Linked DNA regions of Homo sapiens. The protein of the gene in region 1 interacts with the protein of each later gene in a biochemical or structural test. Each region holds a gene or a part of one and is shown on either strand. Other genes may lie near its edges.

Region 1 (7,031 bases):
AAGATGAAGAGAAGCATAGAAGAAGCCTGCTTCACTCTCCAGTACCTAAACAAATTGTCCATGAAACCAGAACCTCTGTTTAGAAGTGTAGGCAATACTATTGATCCTGTCATTCTTTTCCAAAAAATGGGAGTAGGTAAACTTGAGATGTATGTGCTTAATCCAGTCAAGAGCAGCAAGGAAATGCAGTATTTTATGCAGCAGTGGACTGGTACCAACAAAGACAAGGCTGAATTCATTCTGCCTAATGGTCAAGAAGTAGATCTCCCGATTTCCTACTTAACTTCAGTCTCATCTTTGATTGTGTGGCATCCAGCAAACCCTGCGGAGAAAATCATCCGAGTCCTGTTTCCTGGGAACAGCACCCAGTACAACATCCTGGAAGGGTTGGAAAAGCTCAAACATCTAGACTTTCTGAAGCAGCCACTGGCCACCCAAAAGGATCTCACTGGCCAGGTGCCCACTCCTGTGGTGAAACAAACAAAACTGAAACAGAGGGCTGATAGCCGAGAAAGTCTGAAGCCAGCCGCAAAACCACTTCCTAGCAAATCCGTGCGCAAGGAGTCAAAAGAAGAAACCCCTGAGGTCACAAAAGTGAATCACGTGGAAAAGCCACCCAAAGTTGAAAGCAAAGAAAAGGTAATGGTGAAAAAAGACAAGCCAATAAAAACAGAGACCAAACCTTCAGTGACTGAAAAGGAGGTTCCCAGCAAAGAAGAGCCATCTCCAGTGAAAGCCGAGGTGGCTGAGAAGCAAGCCACAGATGTCAAACCCAAAGCTGCCAAGGAGAAGACGGTGAAAAAGGAAACAAAGGTAAAGCCTGAAGACAAGAAAGAGGAGAAAGAAAAGCCAAAGAAAGAAGTGGCTAAAAAGGAGGACAAAACACCTATCAAGAAGGAGGAAAAACCAAAAAAGGAAGAGGTGAAAAAAGAAGTCAAAAAAGAGATCAAGAAAGAAGAGAAAAAAGAACCCAAGAAAGAGGTTAAGAAAGAAACACCGCCAAAGGAAGTCAAGAAGGAAGTTAAGAAGGAAGAGAAGAAGGAAGTGAAAAAGGAAGAAAAGGAACCCAAAAAAGAAATTAAGAAGCTCCCTAAAGACGCAAAGAAATCATCTACTCCTCTGTCTGAAGCAAAAAAACCAGCTGCTTTAAAACCAAAAGTACCCAAGAAGGAAGAGTCTGTCAAGAAAGATTCTGTTGCTGCCGGAAAGCCAAAGGAGAAGGGGAAAATAAAAGTCATTAAGAAGGAAGGCAAGGCCGCAGAGGCTGTCGCTGCAGCTGTCGGCACTGGAGCCACCACAGCAGCTGTCATGGCGGCAGCTGGAATAGCAGCCATTGGCCCTGCCAAAGAACTCGAAGCTGAGAGGTCCCTTATGTCATCTCCTGAGGATCTAACCAAGGACTTTGAAGAGTTAAAGGCTGAAGAGGTCGATGTAACAAAGGACATCAAGCCTCAGCTGGAGCTAATCGAAGACGAAGAGAAACTGAAGGAAACTGAGCCAGTCGAAGCCTACGTCATCCAGAAGGAGAGAGAAGTCACCAAAGGTCCTGCCGAGTCCCCTGATGAGGGAATCACTACCACTGAAGGGGAGGGCGAATGTGAACAGACACCTGAGGAGCTGGAGCCCGTCGAGAAGCAGGGAGTAGACGACATTGAAAAATTTGAAGATGAAGGAGCCGGTTTTGAAGAATCTTCAGAGACTGGAGACTATGAAGAGAAGGCAGAAACTGAGGAGGCTGAGGAGCCAGAAGAGGATGGGGAGGAACACGTATGTGTGAGCGCCTCCAAGCACAGCCCCACTGAGGATGAGGAAAGTGCCAAGGCGGAGGCTGATGCATACATCAGGGAGAAGAGGGAGTCTGTGGCCAGTGGGGATGACCGAGCCGAAGAAGACATGGATGAGGCCATTGAGAAAGGAGAGGCTGAACAATCTGAAGAGGAGGCTGATGAGGAGGACAAAGCTGAAGATGCCAGAGAGGAGGAATATGAGCCGGAAAAAATGGAAGCTGAAGACTATGTGATGGCTGTGGTCGACAAGGCTGCAGAGGCTGGTGGTGCCGAGGAGCAGTATGGATTCCTCACCACACCAACCAAGCAACTAGGAGCCCAGTCTCCTGGCCGAGAACCTGCATCTTCAATTCATGATGAGACTTTACCTGGAGGCTCAGAGAGCGAGGCCACCGCTTCTGATGAGGAGAATCGAGAAGACCAGCCTGAGGAATTCACTGCCACCTCTGGCTACACTCAGTCTACTATTGAGATATCCAGTGAGCCCACCCCCATGGATGAGATGTCTACCCCTCGAGACGTGATGAGTGATGAGACCAACAATGAAGAGACGGAGTCCCCTTCTCAGGAATTCGTAAATATCACCAAATATGAATCTTCATTGTATTCTCAGGAATACTCTAAACCTGCTGATGTTACACCGCTCAACGGATTTTCTGAAGGATCAAAAACAGATGCCACTGATGGCAAGGATTACAATGCTTCAGCCTCTACCATATCACCACCCTCTTCCATGGAGGAAGACAAATTCAGCAGATCTGCTTTACGTGATGCTTACTGCTCTGAAGTGAAAGCCAGCACCACTTTGGACATCAAAGATAGCATCTCAGCTGTTTCAAGTGAAAAGGTCAGCCCATCGAAGAGCCCGTCCCTGAGTCCATCTCCACCATCACCCTTAGAAAAGACCCCCCTGGGTGAACGTAGTGTGAACTTCTCTCTGACGCCCAATGAGATTAAAGTCTCTGCAGAGGCAGAAGTAGCCCCGGTGTCTCCTGAGGTGACCCAAGAAGTAGTTGAAGAACATTGTGCTAGTCCTGAGGACAAGACTCTGGAAGTGGTGTCACCATCTCAGTCCGTGACTGGCAGTGCTGGTCACACACCTTACTATCAATCTCCTACTGACGAGAAATCCAGTCATCTCCCTACAGAAGTCATTGAAAAACCACCAGCAGTTCCAGTGAGTTTTGAATTCAGTGATGCCAAAGATGAGAATGAAAGGGCTTCAGTAAGCCCCATGGATGAGCCCGTGCCTGACTCAGAGTCTCCTATTGAAAAAGTTTTGTCTCCTTTACGCAGCCCGCCCCTCATTGGATCCGAGTCTGCTTATGAAAGTTTTCTAAGTGCTGATGACAAGGCTTCTGGCAGAGGTGCCGAAAGTCCTTTTGAAGAAAAGAGTGGAAAACAAGGCTCTCCAGACCAAGTAAGTCCAGTTTCTGAAATGACTTCTACTAGTCTTTACCAAGACAAACAGGAAGGGAAAAGCACAGACTTTGCACCAATAAAAGAAGACTTTGGCCAAGAAAAGAAAACTGATGATGTTGAAGCCATGAGTTCTCAACCAGCACTGGCTCTGGATGAAAGGAAATTAGGAGATGTTTCTCCCACACAAATAGATGTCAGTCAGTTTGGATCTTTTAAAGAAGACACTAAGATGTCCATTTCTGAAGGTACTGTCTCAGACAAGTCAGCTACTCCTGTTGATGAGGGCGTAGCAGAAGACACGTACTCTCATATGGAGGGTGTGGCCTCAGTGTCCACAGCCTCAGTGGCTACGAGCTCATTTCCAGAGCCAACAACAGATGATGTGTCTCCATCTCTGCATGCTGAGGTTGGCTCCCCACATTCCACAGAAGTAGATGACTCCCTTTCAGTGTCTGTTGTGCAAACACCTACCACATTCCAGGAAACAGAAATGTCTCCATCTAAAGAAGAATGCCCAAGACCGATGTCAATTTCTCCACCAGATTTCTCCCCTAAAACTGCAAAGTCCAGGACACCCGTTCAAGATCACAGATCTGAACAGTCCTCAATGTCTATTGAATTTGGCCAAGAATCTCCTGAGCAATCCCTTGCTATGGACTTCAGTCGACAGTCTCCAGATCACCCTACAGTGGGTGCAGGCGTGCTTCACATCACTGAAAATGGGCCAACTGAAGTGGACTACAGTCCTTCTGACATGCAGGACTCCAGTTTATCACATAAGATACCACCTATGGAGGAGCCGTCCTACACCCAAGATAATGATCTTTCTGAGCTCATCTCAGTATCTCAGGTAGAGGCCTCCCCGTCCACCTCTTCTGCTCATACCCCTTCTCAGATCGCTTCTCCTCTCCAAGAAGATACTCTATCCGATGTTGCTCCTCCCAGAGATATGTCCTTATATGCCTCACTCACCTCTGAAAAAGTGCAAAGTCTGGAAGGAGAGAAGCTCTCTCCAAAATCTGATATCTCTCCACTCACCCCACGAGAGTCCTCTCCTTTATATTCACCTACTTTTTCAGATTCTACCTCTGCAGTCAAAGAGAAAACAGCAACTTGCCACAGTTCCTCTTCTCCACCAATAGATGCAGCATCCGCAGAGCCCTATGGCTTCCGTGCCTCAGTGTTATTCGATACAATGCAACACCATCTAGCCTTGAATAGAGATTTGTCCACACCTGGCCTGGAGAAGGACAGTGGAGGGAAGACACCTGGTGACTTTAGCTATGCCTATCAAAAGCCTGAGGAAACAACCAGGTCCCCAGATGAAGAAGATTATGACTATGAGTCTTATGAGAAGACCACCCGGACCTCAGATGTGGGTGGCTATTACTATGAGAAGATAGAGAGAACCACAAAATCTCCAAGTGACAGTGGCTACTCCTATGAGACCATTGGGAAAACTACCAAGACCCCTGAAGATGGTGACTATTCCTATGAAATTATTGAGAAGACCACACGGACCCCTGAAGAGGGTGGGTACTCATATGACATAAGTGAAAAGACCACCAGCCCCCCCGAAGTGAGTGGTTACAGCTATGAAAAGACTGAGAGGTCTAGAAGGCTTCTGGATGACATCAGCAATGGCTATGATGACTCTGAGGATGGTGGCCACACACTTGGGGACCCCAGCTACTCTTATGAAACCACTGAGAAAATTACCAGTTTCCCTGAGTCTGAAGGTTATTCCTATGAGACATCTACAAAGACAACACGAACCCCTGATACTTCCACATACTGTTACGAGACTGCAGAGAAAATCACTAGAACCCCTCAGGCATCCACATATTCCTACGAGACTTCAGACCTATGCTACACTGCAGAAAAGAAGTCCCCCTCAGAAGCCCGTCAGGATGTCGATTTATGCCTCGTGTCCTCTTGTGAATACAAGCACCCCAAGACAGAGCTTTCACCCTCTTTCATTAATCCCAATCCTCTTGAGTGGTTTGCCAGTGAAGAACCCACTGAAGAATCTGAAAAGCCCCTCACTCAATCAGGGGGAGCCCCACCGCCTCCAGGAGGAAAGCAACAGGGCCGACAGTGTGATGAAACCCCTCCCACCTCAGTCAGCGAGTCAGCCCCATCCCAGACCGACTCTGATGTTCCCCCGGAGACTGAAGAGTGCCCCTCCATCACGGCCGATGCCAATATCGACTCTGAAGACGAGTCGGAAACCATCCCCACAGACAAAACTGTCACGTACAAACACATGGACCCACCTCCAGCTCCCGTGCAAGACCGCAGCCCTTCGCCACGCCACCCTGATGTGTCCATGGTGGACCCAGAGGCCTTGGCCATTGAGCAGAACCTGGGCAAAGCTCTAAAGAAAGATCTGAAAGAGAAGACCAAAACCAAAAAGCCAGGTACAAAGACCAAGTCATCTTCACCTGTCAAAAAGAGTGATGGGAAGTCTAAGCCCTTGGCAGCTTCACCAAAACCAGCGGGCTTGAAAGAATCCTCGGATAAAGTGTCCAGGGTGGCTTCTCCTAAGAAGAAAGAATCTGTGGAAAAGGCAGCAAAACCCACCACCACTCCTGAGGTCAAAGCTGCACGTGGGGAAGAGAAAGACAAGGAGACCAAGAATGCTGCCAATGCCTCTGCATCCAAGTCGGCCAAGACCGCCACTGCAGGTAGGTTGAGAAGGCTGGGCATTGGATATATGTCACAACCATTCTACTTGCGTTTACAGCCTTTATATTTCCCTGTTTGGCTTTGTACTGGGAAGATGAGGGAGCACAATTGATGCTTTACCTTCCCTGTACTCTTCTCCTCTGCCCAAAGGTATATATCTCAGTCCAGTGTGGCCTTAAGGCTTGGAAATAGCTCAGTGTATGGTTCAAAGCAGCTGTGATTCATCACTGGGATTCCTGATTTTGTGCCGTTTTCGAACACAGCAACTACAGCCCTGTTCTAAATCTTCAGAACCAAGGATGTGTCTTTCAGGTGCTTCTGGAAGACTGGTTTCAGCCATACTGGCCTCAGAATCCAGCAGGGTAACACAGGCCAGGAGCTCCCAAAGGCCTAAGGAGAACCAGAGGTTTCACATCAAGACTGGATCAACCAGTCTAGACCCAAGATTTAGAGTCCTTTTTTAAAAAAAATTTTTTTTAAATTAAAAATGTTTACATTTTTATTTAAAACATCACCAGGTTGGAGATAAATCCTCATTAAAGGCAGTGTTCCATTTTCTTATCAGCCAAAAAATACTATAATTTCAGTTGACCAGTGAGTGTCCGGTGAAAATTGAGAGAAAAACATTGATGGCTCTGCTCTTACCCTTCTCTTACCCCATGGCCTCATTAGTAGAGACTCAATGCTATTTCAGATTAAAATTCCACTGGGAAGCTAGATGCATGGCCTCATGCCTGTAATTTCAGCACTTTGGGAGGCTGAGATGGAAGGTTAGCTTCAGCCCAGGAAGTTGAGACCAGCCTGTGCAACATAGCAAGACCCTGTCTCCACAAAAAAAAAAAAATGTTTTTTAATTAGCTGGGTGTGGTGGCACGTGCTTATAGTCTTAGCTACTTGGGAGGCTGAGGCAGGAGGATCACTTCAGCCCAAGAGATCAAGGCTGCAGTGAGCCAGAATTGTATGTATCACTGCATGCCAAGCCTGGGTGACAGAGCAAGACCCTGTCTCTCAAAAATAAATAAATAAGCAAATGAAATGCCACTTGGCAAGAGCAGGTATCCCTGATTTTTGATCATTCATGTTTTTGGTCATGATTCTCAGATTTATCAGGTTCTCAGCAATGACCTGGGCTTT
Region 2 (6,623 bases), on another chromosome or scaffold:
CGGAGTCTTGTCTTGTCACCAGGCTAGAGTGCAATGGCATGATCTCAGCTCACTGCAACCTCCACCTGCCAGGTTCAAGGGATTCTCCTGCCTCAGCCTCCTGAGTAGCTGGGATTAAGGCACTTGCCACCACGCCTAGCTAATTTTTTGTATTTTTAGTAGAGATGGGGTTTCACCATATTGGCCATACTGGTCTCCAACTCCTGACCTCAGATGATCCACCCACCTCAGCCTTCCAAAGTGCTGGGATTACAGGCATGAGCCACCATGCCCAGCCAACTCCAACTCTTAAAACACAAAATTTAAAAACAAGTATTTATGCAACTCTTGTTGCTTTTAAACTAAGCTGCTCATGTCATACATGGGAAATGGAGGCTCTGAAAGGGGAAAGGATTTTTCTGGGGTCCCAGATTGAAGGGGCAGAATCTGGACCAGAACCCAGGACACCTACACCCAGGCCTCCCCACGACACCAGCTGCTTCTCAAGCCCCGAGTGGCCCCTCAGTTGAATCCAGTCCACACCACAGCCACTGCCTTCAGCTAGAGTTTATTGAGAGTCCCCTTGGGCAGACCTGGGGGATAGGGGAAGCCCCGCAAGCACCATGGCCCCTCAGAGGCCAGCCGCCGGGGCCAGAGTTGTGTCTCATCAGCACCAAGGAGAGGGCCAGGCCAGGCATGGAGGACCCCCTGGGAGTTTGTGTTGATGGAACTTGGGGGAGGCAGGGCTGAAAAGGGACCTATGGCAGGTAAACTGGCGACCAAGAGTTCCCCAACCCCCTGCCCCCAGAAACCAAGGCCCCTGTGCCAGAGTCCACCTGCCTGCCTCGTGGGCCCCACCTCACACCAGGAACAGCTCTTTGACTCTACTCTGCTGACCCAAGTAGCTACCATTCCCATTTCTCTCACTGACCCCAGGGAAGGCCAGAGGCAGGTGGGCAAGGGGCTGGGTTTATCCCCATCAGTTGTTCCCTTCTAGGTCCAAGGACCCCCCAGGATTGAGGAAAACCAGTTCTGAGGCTGAAAAAGAAACTGCCACCTGCCCCTTTTGCCCCCAGGAAAGGCAGGGCAGCAGCTTGGGAGCTGGGAGGGTCCCTGAGAGATGGGGTCCCCACCCAGGAGCCAGAACAGGGAGTTGGGGAACCAGAGTCAGGCTTTGGGAGGCTAGGCCAGGGCTGAAGAGGGGGAGGCAAATGGAAAGAGAACAACGGGAGCAAAGAGCCCTTCCTGACACACAGCCGGAGAGGCCAGGGGGCTGGATAGCCGGGGGTCGTAACAACAGAACGTACCAATTAACTGACCGTGTACTGGGTGCTGGGCACACATTGTCTTAATTCTCAAGACAACCTGCAAGATAGGCATCATTTCTCTACCTTACACATGGGATAACCGAGGCTCGGAGAGGTTAAATAACTCGTGTCAGGCCCCAGAGCTCATAGGTGGTAGAGCAGAGGCCCACATGCATGCCTGCCTGCCTCCCAGGTGCAGCTGCTGCCACATATATACCAGGGAGGGGAGACTGACAGGTCCAAAAACCATCCAGCAAATCATTCTGAGGGTTAAAGATGATCTAAGGCAGCACATCTCAAACTGTAATGGGCACATGATTCACCTGGGATCTTGGTAACATGCAGTTCTGACTCAGCAGGTCTGGGCAGGGGCAGAGATGTGCATTTTTCACAAACTCCCAAAGGTGACGGCAATGCCGATTGTCCATGGACTACACTGTGAGTAGCAAGGGGTTCAGCCCAGCATTAATCCATGCCTGCAGGTGGGGGCATTCCCTCCCGTCCAGCCTGACAGAATGGGCAAAGGTCATGATTGTTTTCATCCTAACCTGAACCAAGAGGTCCTTCTCCCCAACATCCAGAGTCCTCCAGCCCATCCTCTGCACACACAAGTTACACTCAACAGTGGAGCATCCTTCAGAACACGATATCTGAGTCAGCTATGATCCCTGCAGGTAAGGGGCCTGGAGATGGCAGCAGGGGGTCAGCTCTGCGCACCCCTCTGGAGCTCAGAGGGCTTCTAGGAGACTTGCAGCCTCCTGGTCTTAGCCAAGAGCTGGCCCAAGGACTCAGGGTCTGGGTTCTGCTCAATCCAGCTCCCCATTGGCCAGCCCCAAGCCCGGGTCAGTTCGTGGGGATGCCAAGTGGATGCGGCCGCAGCTCGGGCTCCGCGGGGTCGATGTTGAAGAAATTGACGGCGGCAGCGGCCCTGGTGGGCAGCGGGGGGTCCTGGGTGGCCTCGCCAGGAAGCAGCAGCTGGGCCGTGAGCCGCAGGCCCGAGGAGCCGCCTGAGCCTGCGTCTGAGTCCGAATCTGAGTCCGGCGGCAGGGGCAGCGGCAGCACCTGCTGTAGGCTAAGGCCGGGCCGGGGGCCGCTGTGAGAGGTGCGCAGTGATGGCGAGGCCAGGCTGGCCTGGCGCTCCCGGGGACAGCGTGGACATGGCAGGAACCTGCCCAGCGCCCGCTTGAAGTCCCGCATGAAGAGTGGGTAGATGATGGGGTTCATGGTGCTGTTACAGTAACCCAGCCATGTGAGGACATCGAAGAGGCCTGGGGAGATGCAGTCGCACACGGCCTGGGGGGAGGGGATGCATCATGCCTGGTCCCAGGGCAGGGACCCAGGCCACCCTTCCCAGCATGTATGGAGCAGACACACACACACACGCACCACGAGAGGCAGCCTACCCTCCCCTGTCCCCATGCCTGGGCTGGGATCCAGGGCCTCTCCTGCAAGGGCCGGACTCACCTGCCCCCTGCCGTGGCATTACCTGGACTATGTTGGCCACAAAGAAGGGCAACCAGGTCACAAAGAACATGCCCAGCAGGATGCCCAGCGTCAGGCTGGCCTTCAGGGCCTTCCTGCTGTGCTTCGTGGCTAGACGCCTGCTGTCAGCAGACTCCACCCCTGGGCGTGGGGTCCTGGGCACCTGCGGAAAGGAAGGCCACATGAGTCCGTTGAGAAAGGGCCCCCGTCTGACCCTGATCCTAGCCACAGACTGAGCTTCAATCCTAATTCTAGACTGAGCCCTAGTGCCAGGATTAAACTGGGCCCTGTTCCTTGACTGAGTCCCAACTAGAGTCCTAGACTGAGCCCTGACCCTGACTCCAGGCCAAGCCCTGACATCAGCAATAAACCAAGCCCTGACCTTGGCCCCCCACTGAACCCTGACACCTACCATAAAGCCCTACATAACCAAGTTCTCAAACCAAGCCTCAACTGTGGACCTAGACTGAGCTCTGATCCTGGTCCCACACTGAGCCCTGACCCTGACCCAGAATTTCATAAGGAGCTCTAGGAAGTGCAGTGAGACAGAGCAATACCTGAAACACAAATCAGATGGTTCAGAAGAACAACCATCCCTGCAAAGACAATACGTGACACAGGCCAACACACACATTACAATGAGCCCAGCACCTTCCAAAGCCTTTAGCGCTACAGAAATCAATTGCAATTGACTGGGCACAGTGGCTCACGCCTGTAATCCCAGCACTTTGGGAGGCCGAGGCAGGCAGATCACTTGAGGTCAGGAGTTTGAGACCAGCCTGGCCAACAGGGTGAAACCTTGCCTCTACTAAAAATACAAAAATTAGCCAGGCGTGGTGGCAGGCACCTGTAATCCCAGCTACTCAGGAGACTGAGGCAGGAGAATTGCTTGAACCCAGGAGGTGGAGGTTGCAGTGTGCCAAGCTCACATCACTGCACTCCAAGCCTGGGTGACAGAGCGAGACTCTGTCACACACACAGACACACACAAAATCAATTGCAATTGAACAGTACTTGAAAAAGAGGACCTGTTACTGTCCAGAGCTTGGCAATTGCTTTGTATGTGGATTGTCTTCACATTTGGGAGCAATAGTCTTGCCTGGGCAATTACTCTTGAGCCCCACAAAATAGAAAGGCTTTTTTGAGAATGTGTGCACAGAGCCAATGTTTGCAGCTAAATCTCTTAATAGGCTCCTAAGGATGCTGGTTACCTTGGCATTTTATAGCTCAATTATACTGCGAACTGGCAGGCATCTCCATTCTCAAAAGTGGACAGGAAGAGGAGGAAGGGGTAGGAGGGAGGAAGAGAAAGAAGCTACTTCCCAGCAGCCACTGAAAGGAAGGCATGGGCCCGGGGAGGTTAGAATTTGACTTTGCAAACTGGCCCCCACAGTCCCAAAGGGCTCTCTGAGCTGGATCATTCTTTAGCTCAGCAGTGCTCTTCACTTGTTAAACTTCATGAGCCTTTTGAAAATCTAATGAAATCTCACACACACACACACACACACACAAACCTCTCCCCAGAAAATAAAAGGCTTGTAAATTTTTACACACACACACACAGACAAGAAAACAACGTTTCACACTTCCAGAAGGTTCAGAGATGACCTTGAAGTCTCTAGGTTTCCACCAGAAACCCCTAGGAGTCCGTGAAAGCTGGGATGTGAAGCCCTCCTCTAAACCATGTGTTTCTGTAATCAACGTGGATTTTCATATATTAGATTTACACAAAATTAGGCCCACCTCTATTTACTATTTAATGCCCGTGGGCAGTGGTGTGCACAATTCATCATGAGCTACGCAAAGGGTGTGTTTGCGGTCTGTGAATACATCTGGGCTTTGACAGCCAGGGATTTTCCCGGCACTGGGATTTGTCCAGTTCCTAAATTGCGTGAGAGCCCTGCTTAGTTCTCGAGGCCAGAGGTGGGTTGGATATGGGGAGATGAGGTCAGAAGGAGGCAGGAGCAGAGCCAGATTCCCAGGCAACCTTCCGCAGATGGAAAGGCGGAGGAGGCAAAGCCAAGATGTGTCAACTCCAGGGAGCACCAAAGCCAACACCCCACCCCACTCTGCTGCGCATGCCCTCTCCTCCAGCCCCGGCTCTTTCTAGGCCTCCAGAGTTGGTGTCTTGTCCATGGTGCTGAAACCCCAACTACACGCGGTCTTTTCATAGAAGCTGGAATTCTAATTCTGAAATGGCAAGGAGGTTGCTGGGGCAGGGAGACGAAGCACATCGTAATCCCCACCCCTCAACGTGTTTCTTCACATGAAATCTGGTTGTACAAATATCAAGGTTATACAAATTCACAACAGAGGCCTTGGTTTCTCCCTTCTGTCTTGGTGAGACAGCATTGTACAGAGGCAAAACCTGGGCTTTTAAGACAGGTGATCTGGCTTCAAATCAAAGTGGCCTCTACCACTTACTCGCTCTGTGATCTTGAGAGAGCCTCTGTTTCCACATCTGCAAAATGGGAGAAATGATACTCAGCTTACGGCGTCGCTGTGAAGCTATGGATAATAAATGCATGCACAGAGTCTGACGTTGAGTAGGTGCTAAATACCTGGTAGCCATGTTGCTGTTTCAGTGATATGTGTTGTGAGGTTGGGGTGATTTTGAGCACTGTTGGGGAGCCTGTCCTTCTGCCAGCAGCTCTGGCCTCCCCAAAGCAGCACAGACACCAAGACAAATGCTCTGAGTCACCACGCTGCGGCTCAGATGCTATGACTAGAGGATGCTCTCCTCCGACTCCACCCCATCATACACGAGTCTGCTCCAAAGTCATTCCAAGTTAGCAAGGGAGTAAAAGAGGGTTTTACTCTCCTCTCTCCTCTTCTAGTTTTCTCTCCTCCAGAGTGGACTCTATATGGCTTTTGTGACCACACCATGGTCAGCCTGGAGGAAGAGGCTCCTGCTTCCCCAAAAGAATCTCCTAAGACCTGCCACACCTTCAAATTGCTGCCATCAATGGGAATAGACGGCATGGAGAGGGATGAGACACTGTCTCATCCAGGCATCGCTCTGACCCTTAGTGACCTGAGGAGGGCAGGGGAGAGGAGGTAGCCCTGATCTTATCACAGCTCTAGGGCATGGGGGAAACTGAGGCACTAGGGGGAATATCTCAGGTCAATCATTGGGGGAAGGAGCTCCAGAGAATGGGGTGAAGATGAACTGAGATTCCCTTTCTAGTCTCCCTGGGAACAACTCCAGGTTTTTCTTTCTCCTCTGCTTTCCAGAGAGTTGACTCAAGAACACAGGGAAGAGGAAAGAGAGAAGGAAACTGAGGCTCAGAAAGGGTAGAGGACACTCTACCCTTCCCAAGGTCACACTGTTCCAGTACAAGGCCTCCAACCAAAACCTGAGTGGCCCTGAACAAATCAGCATTATCATCCCCATTTCTCGAGCACTTACTACACATCAGCATTTGATAGTCATTAGGTCATTCAGTCTTTATGAGAGGTAGGCATTGTCATCCCCATTTTGCAGATGAGACAACTGAGGCTCGGAGAGGCAAAATGACTTGCCAGAAGTCACACAGCAGTTAAGAGTTGAGTTAGGGATTCCATCATTTCTGGCCTCAGGAACACCACTCTGCCCACTTCACCAAGCTGCTTCCACCTTTGGAGACGGCATCCATGGGCCCAGTCAGGTGGGGTTACAGAAACCCCACCACTGTCAGCAAGAGGCCCTCATGGAGCAGAAGCCAATGGCTGTCACTAGTCCACACCCCGGCATCTGGCTGATGCTGGCATCACCCTTCTGGATTCTCTCTCCCCCATAAGCACCTCGCAGCCCCTTGGGGCCATGTCCTGTCGTTTGCATCTCCCTTCTGTATCAGTGTCAGAGGGCAGCTTCCT

What was found. The genes of interacting proteins can lie anywhere in the genome.
Region 2: the proteins of MAP1B (region 1) and HTR6 form a complex in vitro, tested with the Homo sapiens proteins (one study listed by BioGRID).

The regions. Positions count from the first base shown.
Region 1 is NC_000005.10:72,194,472-72,201,502, forward strand, and holds part of MAP1B (microtubule-associated protein 1B), read left to right. Parts: coding exon 1-5,896; intron 5,897-7,031. UniProt on the Homo sapiens protein: Facilitates tyrosination of alpha-tubulin in neuronal microtubules. Phosphorylated MAP1B is required for proper microtubule dynamics and plays a role in the cytoskeletal changes that accompany neuronal differentiation and neurite extension.
Region 2 is NC_000001.11:19,674,875-19,681,497, reverse strand, and holds the end of HTR6 (5-hydroxytryptamine receptor 6), read right to left. Parts: intron 2,932-6,623; coding exon 2,773-2,931; intron 2,580-2,772; coding exon 2,130-2,579; 3' UTR 532-2,129; downstream 1-531. UniProt on the Homo sapiens protein: G-protein coupled receptor for 5-hydroxytryptamine (serotonin), a biogenic hormone that functions as a neurotransmitter, a hormone and a mitogen. Also has a high affinity for tricyclic psychotropic drugs.